Linked DNA regions of Homo sapiens: region 2 is linked to region 1. The links come from fine-mapping of genetic effects on gene expression. Tissue or cell type: whole blood. Region 1 holds a variant in brackets; the other region holds the start of a gene. All regions are shown on one strand. Distances are between the middles of the regions.

Region 1 (8,000 bases):
CACAAACATGATAATTCACCAGACGCCTCTGACACGCGCCAGCTCGGCACTGTCCCCCATGTTATTTGAGTCCATAATTCATGATGTGACAGCCCACAGGAAGGCTGAGGGTGCTGTGAAAATGAACTATCTTTTTCTTTCTAACAAAATAACTATGTATAGGACCTTTGCTGATTGCTACTAGCTGTCTCTGTTTGGAAACATTGAGCTAGCTTCTGGGGCATTTCCAGATTAGGGAAATTTGTCCTCATTTTCTGATGATGTATGCTTCCCTGTAACTGAGATTGAGCAATCAGCCTGGAGCAAGTGACCCACATAAGACCTCTTCATCCTCTTTTTTGGAGTGGTCAAGCCGGAGATCTCAGCACTTCACTTCTTTGGGGACCCAGGTCCCCCATCTGCAAAGCAGGGAGCTTGGACAGAATCCCACACGTGGCCCTCACCAACTCAGATGTCCCCGGGACTATGGTTCTCAGACAGTGTATCTCCCCTGATGAGCAGAGCTCATACACAATCCCCTGCCTCTCTGGTCAAGCTGGCCTGGCCAGCAAACAACCACTCTGATGACTCATGGCTGAGACCCCCATTCCCACGCCCCCCCATGTTGCTGTGAGGCCTGTTAGCCCCATTCCTTCGCCTGGCTGCCTCCCACCCACACCTCAGCCTTCTCAGTGTGGACACAGGTGCACAGGCACTGTCAGGAATGGGGGCCTCTGCACAGCTCTTGGGAGGTGCCTTTGGGGTCCCATCTGATTTGCCAAACTCTTGCCTAACCCACCCAGCAGGATGGGTAACAGCTAAAAGCATGGCTTTCCTGAGCTTTGCTCCTCCTGGTGGGGGTGGGGGCAAGAAGAGAGGGTGGGGAGACCTGGTACCAGTTTTCAGTCATAAGCAGTTGAATCTCATGATTTGTAGTAATTATGTCCTATAAGATCTCTGCGGACACTGAATTAGCAAAAATGGAAACATTGTTCCTAGGGGAAATACAAGGCTAGATTCCTACAAATCTCCCATCACAACATTCATCAACCATAATACATGAACTTGGCCAGGCGTGGTGGTTCACACACAGTCCCAGAACACTGGGAGGCCAAGGCGGGAGATTTCTTGAGCCCAGGAGTTCGAGGCTGCAGTGAGCTATGATCGTGTCACTGCACTCCAGCCTGGGTGAAAGAGCACGACCCTGTCTCTAAAATTAATAATAATAAACTTGTCTTATGTGTGTTTCTTTTTAAAGACATTATTATTATTATTATTTTGAGACAGAGTCTCACTTTGTTGCCCAGGCTGCATTACAGTGGTGTGATCTTGGCTCACTGCAACCTCTGCCTCCCAGGGTCAAGCCATTCTCCTGCCTCAGCCTCCCGGGTAGCTGGGATGATAGGTGCCCATGACCACGCCTGGCTAATTTTTGTATTTTTAGTAGAGATGGGGTTTCACCATGTTGGCCAGGCTGATCCTGAACTCCTGACCTCAGGTGATCCACCCACCTCAGCCTCCCAAAGTGCTGGGATTACAGGCATGAGCCACTGTGCCGGCTAAAGACATCTTATTAAATATAGATTATTGTTTTATTAACATTGAACGCACAGCCAACAGCACTGTAATTCATGCCTGAATGAAGCTTATCTAACACATATTTTCTGTGTAAGGCACATTGCAGACTTCTTGTGCTTAGGAACATGAGACGGCACTTCAGCACTATGCTGGGGGGCCATTTTAAACAGTGCAATCGCCAACAAAAAGCACAAAAATGCAAAAAAAAAAAAAAAAAAGAGTAGCATTAAATGGACCATAAAAAGACACCTCTTCGCAGTACAAGAGCTAAAACCACAAGACAGAACAGGGACTTCAGCGGGGAGCGTGCACTTGGGGTGACTCAAGTATTTTGCTGCTCTGGGCATGTCCTTGAATGACCACAAAAGCCTGTTAGTATTGATCTTGGCGTTGCAAGTCCATTTCAGTGAGGAGGCGAATTTGCAAATATGGAGTCCATGAATCACAAGGGTCCACTCTACCTCCCTGTCCCTGGGGAGAGGAGGCACTGGCACGCACCACTGATGTGGTGGGGAACGTGGGGAGATTTTCTGGGAGAAATTCAGATAGACTGGGTTTTGGAAGGGTCCAGTGGGTCCCTTGAGAGCAACCAGGTAAGGTGAGTTTGGGGGCAGCTTCCTTCCCCAGGGGACCTCAGTGTCTTGTGTGCATGATGCTTGGACATCAACACTACATCCTTTTACCTCGAAGCTGCCAAAGGGCTCCTGTGAAAACCTAAGGCACTTCAAGTCACTCCTCTGTGTAAAACTCTCCATGGCTCCCATCTTCCTCTGAGGTCTGACCCAATCTCTTCCCCTAGACTCCTCTGATCCCATACCAAGCTATGCTAATTTTCTTGCTGTTGTGCCACCCACACACTAAGCCTGCTCCTCCCCAGGGCCTCTGCACATGCTGTTCCCTCTTCCCAGAATGCTGTACCCAGCCATCAGTCCCCCAGCTCACTCCTTTGCTTTGTGCAGGTCTCGTTGAAATGCCACCTGCTCAGAGCAGCTTCCCCAACCAGCTTATCTCAGACAGCTCTCCGTCACTTCCCGCTCCTCCCGTGGCTTTGTGTTTCCTCGTAGCCAGACGCATCACATCATCGCTCATCTTTCCATTGCCGGTTCCCTGACTAGAATGTGAGTTTTGTTTGGTCCCTCCTGTGTCCCCAGAACTCAGCACTGTGTACTCGATACATCACTGTGCTGTAGGAATGGATGCTGGTGAGTTTCTTCCCTCTATTATGACAGCTCTCTGTGCAGTTTATTTATGGTGTCATTGTATAGAATGAAGGGGAAAATAAGAATGTGTGATACAAGACAAGGAGGAAAACCCAGATATGTGGATTAAAAAGGTTTTACCCAACTGAAAAATTATAGGGTGAATTTGATGGCTACAGAGGAACAATTGCTTATTTATCTGAGAGACAGGGTCTTGCTCTGTCACCCAGGCTGGAGTGCAGTGGCACGATCATAACTCACTGTAACCTTAAATATTTGGGCTGAAATGATCCTCCCGCCTCAGCCTCCTAAAGTGCTGGGATTACAATCATGCAGCATTGCGCCCGGCCTGAAGTGATCCTTATTAACATGCACTGAGCTCTCTTGTATGACAGGCACCCCACCGGAGACATTCCTGCACACTATTTAATTTTCACAGCAGCAGGCCAGGCACAGTGGCTCACACCTGTAATCCCAGCACTTTGGGAGGCCAAGGCGGGCAGATCGCCTGAGGTCAGAAGTCCCAGACCAGCCTGGTCAACATGGTGAAACCCCGTCTCTACTTAAAATACAAAAATTAGCCGGGTGTGGTGGCATGTGCCTGCAGTAGTCCCAGCTATTGGGGTGGCTGAGGCAGGAGAATCGAATTGTTTGAACCCAGGAGGCAGAGGTTACAGTGAGCCAGGATTGCGCCACTGCACTCCAGCCTTGGCGACAAAGCAAGACTCCATCTCAAAAAAACAAAAAAAATTTACAGCAGCAAAGTAGGGGTTATGAC[C/A]TTTATTTTACATAGGAGACAACTGAGACCAGAAAAGTTAAACAACTTCCTCAAAGTCACACAGCCAGCACCTCACATGGAAGGGATCTGAGCCCCGCCAGCCTCCCAGACCTATTGTGGGGTTCCTGACACACTACGTTGCCTGTCGCTCAATTTGAAACCTGATCTTAAGGGTTTGAAAACAAAAACCGGCTTTTCTAAAAAGAATGACCTGTTCCCCAACAATGCAAAATACGGATGCACACGGTTATTCGTTGCACCACTGTTTGTAATTGCAAAATTGTGGAAATACCCTAAATGTCCATTTACAGGAATGTTCTGCCACTGTGGAAAGGAATGAGGAAGCTGACTCTGCACTGATAGACAATGATTTCCGGGTTTTGTCGTCATGTGGAAACAAAGCAAAGTACAAGAATCTACAGCATGCCATATTTTGTGTAAGAAAGAAGAAGAAATAAGAAAATGTTTGGGCTGGGTGTGGTGGCTCACACCTGTAATCCCAGAATTTTGGGAGGCAGAAGCGGGCAGATCACCTGAGGTGAGAAGTTCGAGACAAGCCTGGCCAACGTGGCAAAGCCCCATCTCTACTAAAAATACAAAAATTAGCTGGGAATGGTGGCAGATGCCTGTAATCCCAGCTACTCAGGAGGCTGAGGCAGGAGAATCACCTGAACCCGGGAGGTGGAGGTTGCAGTGAGCCAAGACCTAACCACTGCACTCCAGCCCAGGCTACAGAATGAGACTTCATCTCAAAAAAGAAAAAAAGAAAATGTCTGTGGACTTGTCCATTTTCGCAAAAGTAAGCAGAGGAAAGAAAAGGCAGAAATTGATGCAACGAGCCACGTAATAATGGGAGTTGCAGTCAGGGGGCAATGGGGACAGGGAGAGTTGGGACGCTTTTCTGAGTGCCCCATTTTGCAGAGTGTTGACCTTCAGGAACATGTTAATGTTCTACATACTGAAAACAAGAAAAAGTCAACAAAGATCAGGGTGGCAGGAGCCCTAAATGGAATGTAAACTGAAACAAGTGAACCTACCTGTATTTCAAATGAATAAAGTAACCACATTAAAGGGTAGTGGAGGAAGAGAACGACTCCAGATAACTTTGAACGTAACACTTCCATCATATATACTCGGGCTAAACACAAAAGAACTGCATCCAGTACTGAACTCTACCTAGAAGCCTTACTTTTTGTTTTTACAGTGACATGGGCTGGAAATTCTGAAATGAACTTCCCTGTATTGCTCAGTGTTGGAGAAGAGATTTACAAGTATGAAAAGGGAGAATATTAGAATGAATTCTAATATGTGGTGGCAGGGCACGGTGGCTCACACCTGTAATCCCAGCAACTCTGGGAAGCCAAGGCAGGCAGATCACCTGAGGTCAGGAGTTTGAGACCAGTCTAGCCAACATGGTGAAACCCCATCTCTGCTGAAAATACAAAAATTAGCCAGGTGTGGTGGCACATGCCTGTAATTCCAGCAGAGGTTGCAGTGAGCTGAGATGGCGCCACTGCACTCCAGCCTGGGTGACAAGAGTGAAACTCCGTCTCAAAAAAAAAAAGAATGAATTCTGTGGTGCTGGATTGAAATTGTTTTATAGATAATCAGTAGAATAGACAGAAAAATTTAAGTTGGCATATACATGTATATGTGTGTGTATGTATTTTATATATACATAATATATTATATATGTATTTTTTATATATATATATATATTTGTACTTATACATCTTGGTGTGTATGTGGGTGTGTTTCTTGGTTCTGTCTGCTGCAGAGGCCTAGTAGCACTCCAGTAGCAATGACTGCTCCTAGGACTCAGATCGTGGTTTCTAAAAACCATCCCCCAGTAAAAGGAATCAAGGCTCCTTGGAGAAATGGCCATTTCCAGGATACTGCAAGGGAAGTACAAGATGAACCAGGGCATCTGGTTGTGGCTTACTGCTCCTTGAGTAAGCAAGGAAGTGCTAAAATATGACAGGGATATCACGAAGGTCACAAATGAGCCACCTTGAAAAAGTGCCCACTGGCCAAACTGGACTAATTTGAGCATCAAAATAATGATTGTTAACAGAGTATTCATGGAATCAAGTAAATCCATGCCTATATACATTGAGAAATGAATAAACAAATGGGAGAGAAGAGAAAGCTCTTCCACACAGCTGACTGCCAGCTAATAATCAAGGAGGGAGTGGAGTTACAAAATTTCCATTTTACAACTATCATAGCAATCTCTTTGTAACTATCATAGGGAGGAACCATCAAAGGATGCTAAAAGCAGTGGGTAAAAGTTTGACAGGGAACAGGATATCCTCATAGTCTGAAGGTGACTACCCACTAATTACTTAGGAATTAGGTTTAAGGGAAAATAGGTTTACAATACAGAAACCTTAACCAAGTAATCAAAGTAAAAATCATCGATATTGGGAGTAAATGGCATCGTGCGCCTCTCGATACATTTGCTGCAGAAGCGACTCACTTCTGAGTTCTTCCTGCCAAAAATGCACACTCTAATGGTAATCACGAGAAAACATCAGACAAACCCCAACTGAGGGGCATTCTGTAAAATAACTGGCCTGTATGGGCTGGGTGCAATGGCTCACGCCTGTAATCCCAGCACTTTGGGAGGCCGAGGGGGGTGGATCACGATGTCAGGAGTTTGAGACCAGCCTGACCAACATGGTGAAACCCCGTCTCTACTAAAAATACAAAAATTAGCCGGGCGTGGTGGTGTGCACCTGTAATCCCAGCTACTCAGGAGGCTGAGGCAGGAGAATTGCTTGAATCCAGGAGGCAGAGGTTGCAGTGAGCCAAGATTGTGCCACGGCACTCCAGCCTGGGCGACAGAGCAAGACTCTGTCTCAAAATAAATAAATAAATAAATAAATAAATAAATAAATAAATAAATAAATAAAATAACTGGCCTATATGCTTAAAAGAAGTCCAAGTCACTAAAGGTTGGAAAAGCCTGAGGAACTATCCCAGATCAAGGAAGACTAAGAATACTCTGCACCTTAATTACAATATGTGATCCTAGACCTGATTCAGGAATGGAAAAGAAGAAAAGGTACAAAGGATACTCTTAAAGAATTAGCAAAATCTGAAGATGGATTGTGAATGAGATAATAGTGTTGTTTCAATACGAAATTTCCTTATTTTAATGAAGGTACTAGGCCAGGCGCAGTGGCTCACACCTGTAACCCCAGCACTTTGGGAGGTCAGAGCAGATCATGTGAGCCCAGGAGTTTGATACCAGCCTAGGCAACATAGTGAGACCCCAGCTCTAGAAAAAAATTTTAAAAATTAGCTGGGAATGGTGGTACGTGCCTATAGTCCCAGCTACATGGGAGGCTGAGGCAGGAGGATCACTTGAACCTAGGAGGTTGAGACTGTAGTGAGTCATGATCACTCCACTGCACTCCAGACTGGGTGACAGAGCAAGATGTCATCTCAAAAAAAAAAAAAAAAAGATAAAGGTACTGTGGTTATGTAAGAGAAATTCATTGTCCTTAGCAATTTTTTATTAAACGAAAGAAAAGTTACATACCTGGCTTTCTTCCGGAGTAACTTCTGAGACTCAGGATAATGCACCAAAATCTCATTCAGGTCCTTCTTATCCAGGATGAAGAGGTTGGTAAACCCGTGCGCCACCACGTTGGCCGTGCGCCGGTTCCCGCCCCCAACAGCCAGCAAGCTGGGGCAGAGAAGGGAGGAAGGAGGCCCTTCAGAGACTGCCGTTTCGGTCACATTCAGATCTTCATTTCCCATGTGTGGAGGACAGTGGTGGCCCCACACAGATGAGAACCTTCCCCCGCCCCCATCCCCGCATACATCAGCAGGTGCCAGTGCTGCATCTACCAAGCCGTAGACACTCGCACTGCCCGCTGGCCGCCTTCTTTCCCAGCCCTTGCCCCAGGCCCCTCACTTTACCCCAGCTGCGTCTGACCTTATTTCTCCAAACACAGATCCAGCTTTCAGCGTCACCAGCACAGATTTCCCATCAGGGCCGCCCAAGACCTGCACTTGCCCTGCCTGGATGATGTACATCTCACGGCCGATCTCCCCCTGAAACAAAGAAGTGACAAGTCCCTCTGTTCATCCCCCAAAGTCACCAGAGAAGCAGCCAGGGCTGGATCCAGAGGCTGGAGGTCCGGCAAGGAGGAACCTAGGCACTGGGGTCCAGCCCTGCCACCACAACTTGGGGTGTCGTGTGGGGGCAGTCACTTCCCTCTCAGGCCTCAGTCACCCCATCTGTAGACTTGGAGGAGTGACTACCCCATGCCCTCCATAACTGACAGGGTTGCAGTGGGGGAGTTAGTGATGTCATGGAATGGGAAGTGCCAGCTAACCTGGGAGGTGCAGGTATAATGGAATTCTGCAAATTCCAGTTAGACTCACTGATGGAGGCAGGGCAAATCAGATAGCAGCTCCCACCATCAAATGATGTCTACACCTGGCACATCTCA
Region 2 (8,000 bases), 110 kb after region 1:
GAGAGAGCTCCGACAGGTGCTTGAAGGGCTTTTGGCAGATGGGGCAGCTGTAGGGCTTGTCGGCCTGTTCAGCAGGGGTGACAGTGGAAGGCGCGGGTGCTGCGGGAAGCGACGGGGCGGCTGTGGTGGCTGGCTCCGCTGCCTCAGCTGGCTTGTAGGTCTTTTCACAGATGGAACACTTCACCAGGCCACTGTGGGAGCTGTGGTGCTGTGCCAGTGAGGTGAGTAGTGAGAAGCCCATCTTGCAGACCCCACAGACGAAGGGCTTCTGCTCAGCCTGCACGCACTGGTGCTCCAGCAGGTCAGTGGCCTGGTGGAAGATCTTGAGACACTGTGTGCACTGGAATGAGCGGTCATGGCCCGCCAGACACTGGTGCTCATGCGGACTGGACAGGTGCGCCAGGTCGTGACCACACACGCCACATTTGGGGCCTGGCTCTCCTGCTGCCTGCAGGGGTGCGTGTTGTGGGGGCTGCAGGCCGGGGTCTGGCTGCAGGAGGATGCCATAGACGGCACAGCCCAGGGGGTTCTCCGCCGTGCCCGGAGGCAGCGTGTGCTCTGCCAGGGCTGGCGGTGGCTCTGCATGGTGCTGAGGCTGCGGTGGCTGTGGCTGCTGCGGCTGCGTCTGTGGCGGCTGTTGCCAGCTTTCCGACATGCTTGGGAAGATGAAACAGGGTTTGGAGAGTAATGGCTTCAGTTTCCCGCTTCACGTGACCCAATCCAGAGAGAGAAGCTGCCCAATCACAGAGATGGACAAGGACCTCAGACAAGGCACAGAAGAGGGGCTGGTCAGACAGCCCGAGTCAGTAACCAAGCGGACAGACTACAAGGCTCTGCCTACAGGACATGGGGGCTCTTCAAGGGAGGGTCCCAGCAGTGCCGGGGAGACTCTGCCTTCCCCAGTGATCCGTTCTGTAGAGAAGAGAGAAAGTATGAGCTCGAGGAAGGAACAAGCAGCAGTTTCCTGGGCCTTCTCCCTGTCCTGCCCGCACTCACCACACCATCACAAACCACACATCGGGGAAGGCAGAGGTGCTCAGGGCTGCAGGACTCCTCCCTTCTTAGGCAATCAGAGAGGTCTGCAGCCAGCTCAGCTCCTCCAGGCAGAGGAAATGGCAGCGGCCTCCACCCCCACCCACCTCAGTGCCCCGCCCCTGGGCCAGGACATCCCAGCCTCCACAAGTCCCCTCCAGCTTCCTGCCAACCCTTTAGCTGAGACTCACAGGTGAGAGTCCGGGGTTATCTGCCTACAATACAGAATCCTCCTTAAGGCCCGCAGCTCCTCTCCTGTTGCTACCCTGAGTCTTAATACGGGCCACACCACTTAGAGCTAAGGAGGCCAGACCTCCCAGGTCTGAGAGCCCAGTGGCAAATGGCCTCTGACAGTCAATATTTAGGACAACTACGTGGAACCAAGGACCATTTCAAAAACTCTCACCTATGAGGGACTGACCACACCCCTTCAACTATCCCTGACCACAGGCCCATTCTCTCTCCGCGTGACAGGATGGGTGGCCCTACAGGAACCAGAGCCCATAGGTGATGGGGGCTAGATGAGAGGGCCACAGAACCACCCAGGCTTGATGTCCACACAGCAGAACTTCCTCACTCTGGTTCTCTCCCAGAACTCACACACACACACACACACACACACACACACACAAAGTCCTAAATCCTCTGAATCTCATAGTGTCAAGGCCTGCAGGAAAATGTAAGAAACTGCCCTGGTCTGCCTTGGCAATGCAGGATGCAGCATGCTAACCACAGAGCATTTCTCATCACCTCTCTAGAGACAACTCCATTCCCTTACTCCAAGCCTATAAAGTTCTGGGTAATTGTTGGAAGGTAAAGCCCACCCAGCCCAGGCAAATCTCTAACTCACCACTTTGTGGCAGCATGAGGTAATGCCAGCGAGAGGGAGGAACTTTCAGAGTCAGATGCAACCCACTTCCAGGTTCCCAGCTCATCTGCCTCTTACATTTAAAAGTTTGTAAGTTTTCTCCTGAGCAGAGGAAGAAGGAAGGAGAAGCCTTCACAGGACAGTCTGGCCTCTAACTGCTCTGCCAAAGAAATGTAAGAGTCAGGCTAAAAGCTGTCATCCTCAGCATCTTCCGGAAGGGAGGGAGGAGAGGAGCGGCTGCTCTGGGTGGAGGCAGCAGGTTGCTTGAGCAAGCAGGTACCACTCTAAGCCTTCTCGGGACAGAGAGGGGGAAGGTGGGCTTCTCTGAGCGCCTGTAGGTCCGCTGTGCCAACCCACTGTTTTGTTTGCTTTTTCTGGCATGAATGGCTGTCAGACAGTGTCCCCTGGCTTGGTCTGCAGCACCCCCTGCCCACCCTGGCCCTCCTGCAGCAAGGTGCAGCCAGGAAGCCTCTGTGATCACTCCGCAAAGGGGAGAGAGGAGGCAAGGAGAGGCAGGGGAGGCCCCCCACCTGCGCCCCACCCCGTCTCTTCTTCCTCCCTGAGAAACCGAATGAAAGCCGATCACCTCCCGCCGGCCCTGCCTGCAGGCCCAGCTGGGCTGCGTCCTGTCAGCCCTCGTCCGGGATGGCCCGGCCGCTGCGACCCGAGGGCGAGCCCCGAGGGCGGCCGGGCTGGAGAAAGGCCCCAGGGCTACAGGCCGGGCCCAGGAAGCGGCTGCGCCTCGAGGCCCGGCCTGGGCCGCCCAGAAGCTCAAGAGGCCGCTAGGTCGCGGCGGAGGGGCGCGGGGGGGCGGCCGGGCCGGCAGAGGAAGGGGTGCGGCGGGCGCGGGGGTGGCCCCCAGATGCGGCCCCGGGCGCCCCGCCGCTCACCTGCTCCAGGCCGCCTGCAGGGCAGGCGCGGGGCGAGCGGCGACCAGCTGCTCTCTCGGCCGCCCCTTTATTCCGGCTCCATCCGCGGCGGCGCGGCCTACGCGCGCTGCCAATCCCCGGCCTCGCGTAGCGGCTGCGGCCGGACCGGGGGCGGGGGACGGGCTAGCGGCGGCCGGAACGGAGGAAGCGACGCGCGCTGCCGGAGTAGCGGGGCCGGGGCGAGGAGCGCCGGGAGGGCGGGCGGACGGACCGATGGCCTTGCGGAGACGGGCGGACGGGCGGGCGGCGCGGGGGCCAGGGAGGCGGGGCCGGGGGAGGAGCGGCATCCCGGGCGGCGGCGGCCAATGCGGGAGGAGCGGGCGGCGCGGAGCGAGGCCGCCCCCTGCCGGGGACCCCGTGGCCGGGCCAGGTCGGACAAGCCGGGTGCTCCGGGCGGTTTTCGAGTCGCCAGGCCTGGGCGCCTCGACTAACCGAGGAAGGGCGCTCTGCTTCCGGCCACCCCGCTCGGGCTTAGGGGAGGGGGCTCCGGGTGACCGCCCTCGGCCCGGCTCTGCGCAGGAGAGGAGGGGCCTCCTAGAGGCTCTGGTCTGCCACAATTGATCCGCCCCTAACTGCTCAGCTTGGCTTTTAGGGGCTTGGACTTTGGGCTGGTTTGAGGAGGGGGCTCCAGGACCTCTGATCCTGGCCGGGCTCGGGGCAGGCAGGGGTCTCCGCTGGGTCTAGTGCGCTGACCCGGGACTGTCGTGTCTGGTATGTCTGGTCCCGGGTGGCTGCAGACAGCAGCGGGCAGAAAGGTGAGGGCCCTGAGCGATATATGAAATGGGTACACGAAGGCTGGGGAGGTCCCAGCGGGGTGCCGGGAGGCTGCAGGTGACCAGATCCGCGTGCGCAGCCGGCAGACAGCTTGGAGTCGGTGGGCTGAATCTTCACCACTGTCCTGCCGGGTTCCGCCCCTCCCGGCTCCGCCCCGAGGCGGTGCCAGCCCAGGCCCCGCCCCTGGGAGGGCGCTTCCGGCACAGCGGAACTCCGGGTGCCGGTTGAGGTTGCTGGTGGACCTGCTCTGGTGGTCTTGGATGAGGCCCCATGAGCGCGGCGCCCCTGGTGGGCTACAGCAGCAGCGGCTCCGAGGATGAGTCCGAGGACGGGATGCGGACCAGGCCGGGGGATGGGAGCCACCGTCGGTGAGGAGTGAGGAAGTCTCTCCGGAGGGCGCGCGCATTCACCCTAGAGCCAGACGGGACCCGAATGTCTGGGGGTGGAGTGGGGAGGGAGGATGCGGGGCGGCTCTGGGAAGGAAAAGGGGACGCAGGAAGAAAGGAGGATCCAGAAGATATACCCCTCCCCCCCACCCCAGACAAAGCTCCAGAGTGGCCCCACCTGGCTAGGGCCAAGTTGGGAGGCCAGACCTGGGTTCGGGTCCAGCCTCGCGCTGGCCCACTCTATCGCCTGGCACACATCCCTGTACCATCCTAGGTCCGTTTCCTGATTTGAATACAATTGCGATAGTAATACTTGCTAAAGCGTAGGGAGAGCCTTTTCATTCATCCAGTAAATATTCACTGAGCACCCACTCCCTGCCAGGCTGGGGTCTGGTAATTCAGTGGTGAACAAAACCGTCGGCCTTACTTCCTGGGGCTTAGATTCTTAAATGCTAGGCCTTATCTTTGCTGAGTGCTTTACAAGCAGTAGCTCAGTTGATCCCACAATTGCTCTATCAGGTAGACATATACTTTCAGATGAGGCATTTGAGGCCCAGAAAGGGGACATGACTTGCCCAAGGTCATAGAGCTAGAAAGTGCTACTCCAGCTGCAGCCTGTCCAGCTTGGAAATGTGACCCCTGAACCACATTGTTGCATGCCCTGTTGTTTCCCATGGGGACCTTGTGCCCCAGAGTTGGAGACCCCAATGAGACAATACTGGAGAAACAATTTCGCTATCTAGAAGCTGCTTCCAGCACCAGGCTGGAAACACACACTCAGAGCCACCATATATAAGGGGTTACAACTTTTGTGGTATATACAAAGGTAGAGAATGCTAACAGGATAAATGTACTCATTTTTCTTTTTTTCTTTTGCAGTGGCCAGAGCCCCCTTCCCAGGCAGAGATTTCCAGTACCTGACAGTGTGCTGAACATGTTCCCGGGCACCGAGGAGGGGCCTGAAGATGACAGCACAAAACACGGGGGACGGGTGCGCACCTTCCCCCACGAGCGAGGCAACTGGGCCACCCACGTCTATGTACCATGTGAGTGATGTGTGAAAGGCAAGTTGCCAAGACCCATAGACCCGTAGGTGCCTCATGAAGGGCAGAATCTGGCCCCAACTAGAAGGAAGAAACCAGAAACCTCTAACACTGGTGGTGGGAAAGTCATTGACTTAGCAGAGAAAGAGCAGGTTTCAAGAACTGGGGATTTTTCTGTCATCTTGGTTTTGAATTCGTAGCCTAAAATGTGTATTACCTCTGGGTATAATATTCTCCCTGTTCACGAGGAGGTGACCAAAGGAGAATCTGGAGCAGGGTGTCAAGGTCATGCCAGGCACTTTATTTCTGAGAGGGCCCTGGGTACGCTGGGTGTGCAAGGTTCAAATCCCACCCTAGCTCTGATCAGCAGGTGGAAGACAAAAAATGCCCAGGCTTCAGAGTCAGACCTCACTCCGCTGCCCACTACTCTGGGTGCCCTTTATAAGATACTAGACTTCTCAGAGCTTCAGTTTCTTCAAATCTAAAATGGGGGTAGCACTGGCTAGGCCAGGTGGCTCACACCTATAGTCCCAGCACTTTGGGAAGCGGAGGCAGGCAGATCACTTGAGCCCAGGTGTTTGAGACCAGCCTCGGCAACAGGTAGAAACCCTGTTTCTACCAAAAATACAAAAAAATTAGCCAGGTGTGGTGGCACACGCCTATGGTTCCCACTACTTGAGAGGCTGAGGTAGGCGGATTGACTGACCCTGGGAGGTAGAGACTGTGGTGTGCCAAGATCGCTCCACTGCACTCCAGCCTGGGTGACAGAGTGAGACTCCATCTCAAATAAGACAGTTTGGTGGCTTCTTACAAAACTAAACATACTCTTATCATAAAATCCAGCAATTACATTCCTTGGTTTTTGCCCAAAGGAGTTGCATTTGGTATTGACAGTGTTCTGGAGTTTAGCCATTCTAATAGGTGTGTAGCAATATGTCACTGTTGTCTGTTAATTTGCATTTCCCTGATGACATATGATCCAGATCATCTTTTCAATGCTTTTTGCCATCTGTGTATCTTCCTCAGTGAGGTGTCTGTTAAGGTCTTTTGCCCACTTTTTAATCATTTTTGTTTATTAATATTAATCATTTTTGTTTATTAATAAATTTTAATCATTTTTGTTTATTTAATATTATGATGTGGGTCTAATATTGGATCTTAAAATATTGAGTTTTAAGAGTTCTTTATATTTGAAATAATAGTCCTTTATCAGATACGTCTTTTGCAAATACATTTTTTTCCCAGCCAGTCGCTTGTCTTTTCATTCTCTTGACGTTGTCCTTCACAGAGCAGAAGTTTTTAAGTTTAATGAAGTCCAGCTTATCAATTATTTCTTTCATGGATCTTGCCTTTGGTGTCATATCTAAAAAGTTGTCACCAAACCCAAGATCATCTACATTTTTCTCCTATGTTATCTTTCAGGAATCTTACAGTTTTGCATTTTACATTTAGTTCTGTGTCCATTTTGAGTTAATTTTTGTGAAAGGTGGAAGGTCTGTGTCTAGATTCCTTTTCTTATATATGGATATCCAGTTATTCCAGCACCATTGGTTGAAAAGACTCTCTTTTTCACATTGTATTGCTTTTGCTCCTTTGCCAAAGATCGGTTGACTGTATTGATGTGGGTCTATTTCTGGGTTCTCAATTCTGTTCCATTCATCTATTTGTTCACCAATACCATTGGTGAACTGTTTTGATTGCTGTAACTTTACATAGTTAAGTCTCGAAGTTGGGTAGTTTCAGTCCTCCAACTTTGTTCTTCTCCTTCAGTAGTGTGTTGACTATTCTGGGTTTTTTGGGGGCTTTTTTTGGTTTTTTTTAGAGATAGGGTCTCACTATATTGCCCAAGCTGGTCTTGAATTCCTGGGCTCAAGCAATCCTCTGGCCTCAGCCTCCCAAAGTGCTTGGATTACAGGGATGAGCCACAGCACTTGGCCTGTTTTGGTTTTTTACCTCTCCATGTACACCTTAGAATCCGTTTGTCAGTATCACAAAATAACTTGCTGAGATTTTGACTGGGATTGTATTGAATCTGTAGATCAAATTGGGAAGAACTGACATCTTTACAATATTGAATCTTTCTGTCTATAAACATAGAATATCTTGTAGGGTCCAGCCCCACTGGGTCGGTGGGTTTTCTCCCTGTGTGCGGAGACGAGAGATTGTAGAAATAAAGACACAAGACAAAGAGATAAGAGAAAAGACAGCTGGGCCCGGGGGACCACTACTACCAAGACGCGGAGACCGGTAGTGGCCTCGAATGCCAGGCTGCGCTGATATTTATTGGATACAAGACAAAGGGTCAGGGTAAGGAGTGTGAGCCATCTCCAATGATTGACAAGGTTACGTGAGTCACGCCACTTGGACGGGGGCCCTTGCCTGCCTGGCAGCTGAGGCAGAGAGAGAGAGGGAGAGAGAGAGGACAGCTTACACCATTATTTCTGCATATCAGAGACTTTTAGTACTTTCACTAATTTTGCTACTGCTAGCTAAAAGGCAGAGCCAGGTGTACAGGTGTGAAGGCAGACTAGGAGCATGACCACTGAAGCACAGCATCACAGGGAGATGGTTAGGCCTCCAGATAACTGCGGGCGGGCCTAACTGATGTTAGGCCCTCCACAAGAGGTGGAGGAGCAGAGTCTTCTCTAAACTCCCCTGGGGAAAGGGAGACTCCCTTTCCCGGTCTGCTAAGTAGCGGGTGTTTTCCCTTGGCACTGACGCTACCGTTAGACCACGGTCCACTTGGCAATGGGCATCTTCCCAGACGCTGGCATTACTGCTAGACCAAGGAGCCCTCTGGTGGCCCTGTCCGGGCATGACAGAGGGCTCGCACTCTTGTCTTCTGGTCACTTCTCACTATGTCCCCTCAGCTCCTATCTCTGTATGGCCTGGTTTTTCCTAGGTTATGATTATAGAGCGAGGATTATTATATATTGGAATAAAGAGTAATTGCTACAAACTAATGATT

Evidence for each region. PIP is the estimated chance that this variant, and not a neighbour inherited with it, causes the effect.
Region 2: USB1 starts here. The variant in region 1 is fine-mapped to the expression of USB1 in whole blood (TOPMed, PIP above 0.99).

Annotation. Positions count from the first base shown.
Region 1 is chr16:57,890,316-57,898,315 of GRCh38, forward strand. CNGB1 (cyclic nucleotide gated channel subunit beta 1) reads right to left here. Exons shown (of 33, transcript NM_001297.5): 30 at 7,481-7,599; 31 at 7,082-7,228. Among named protein-coding and RNA genes, the nearest start is that of CNGB1, 77 kb to the right of the region's middle. The variant C/A (reference allele first, on the strand shown) is at 3,535.
Region 2 is chr16:57,997,611-58,005,610 of GRCh38, forward strand. It overlaps USB1 (U6 snRNA biogenesis phosphodiesterase 1), which reads left to right and starts at 3,797. Exons shown (of 7, transcript NM_024598.4): 1 at 3,797-3,971; 2 at 4,869-5,035. The coding sequence starts at 3,874. ZNF319 (zinc finger protein 319) reads right to left here and starts at 3,062. Exons shown (of 2, transcript NM_020807.3): 1 at 1,883-3,062; 2 at 1-912. The coding sequence starts at 655. RefSeq lists enhancers at 2,146-2,415, 3,273-3,442, 3,615-3,909, 3,936-4,035 and silencers at 2,536-2,665, 2,716-3,315, 3,606-3,855.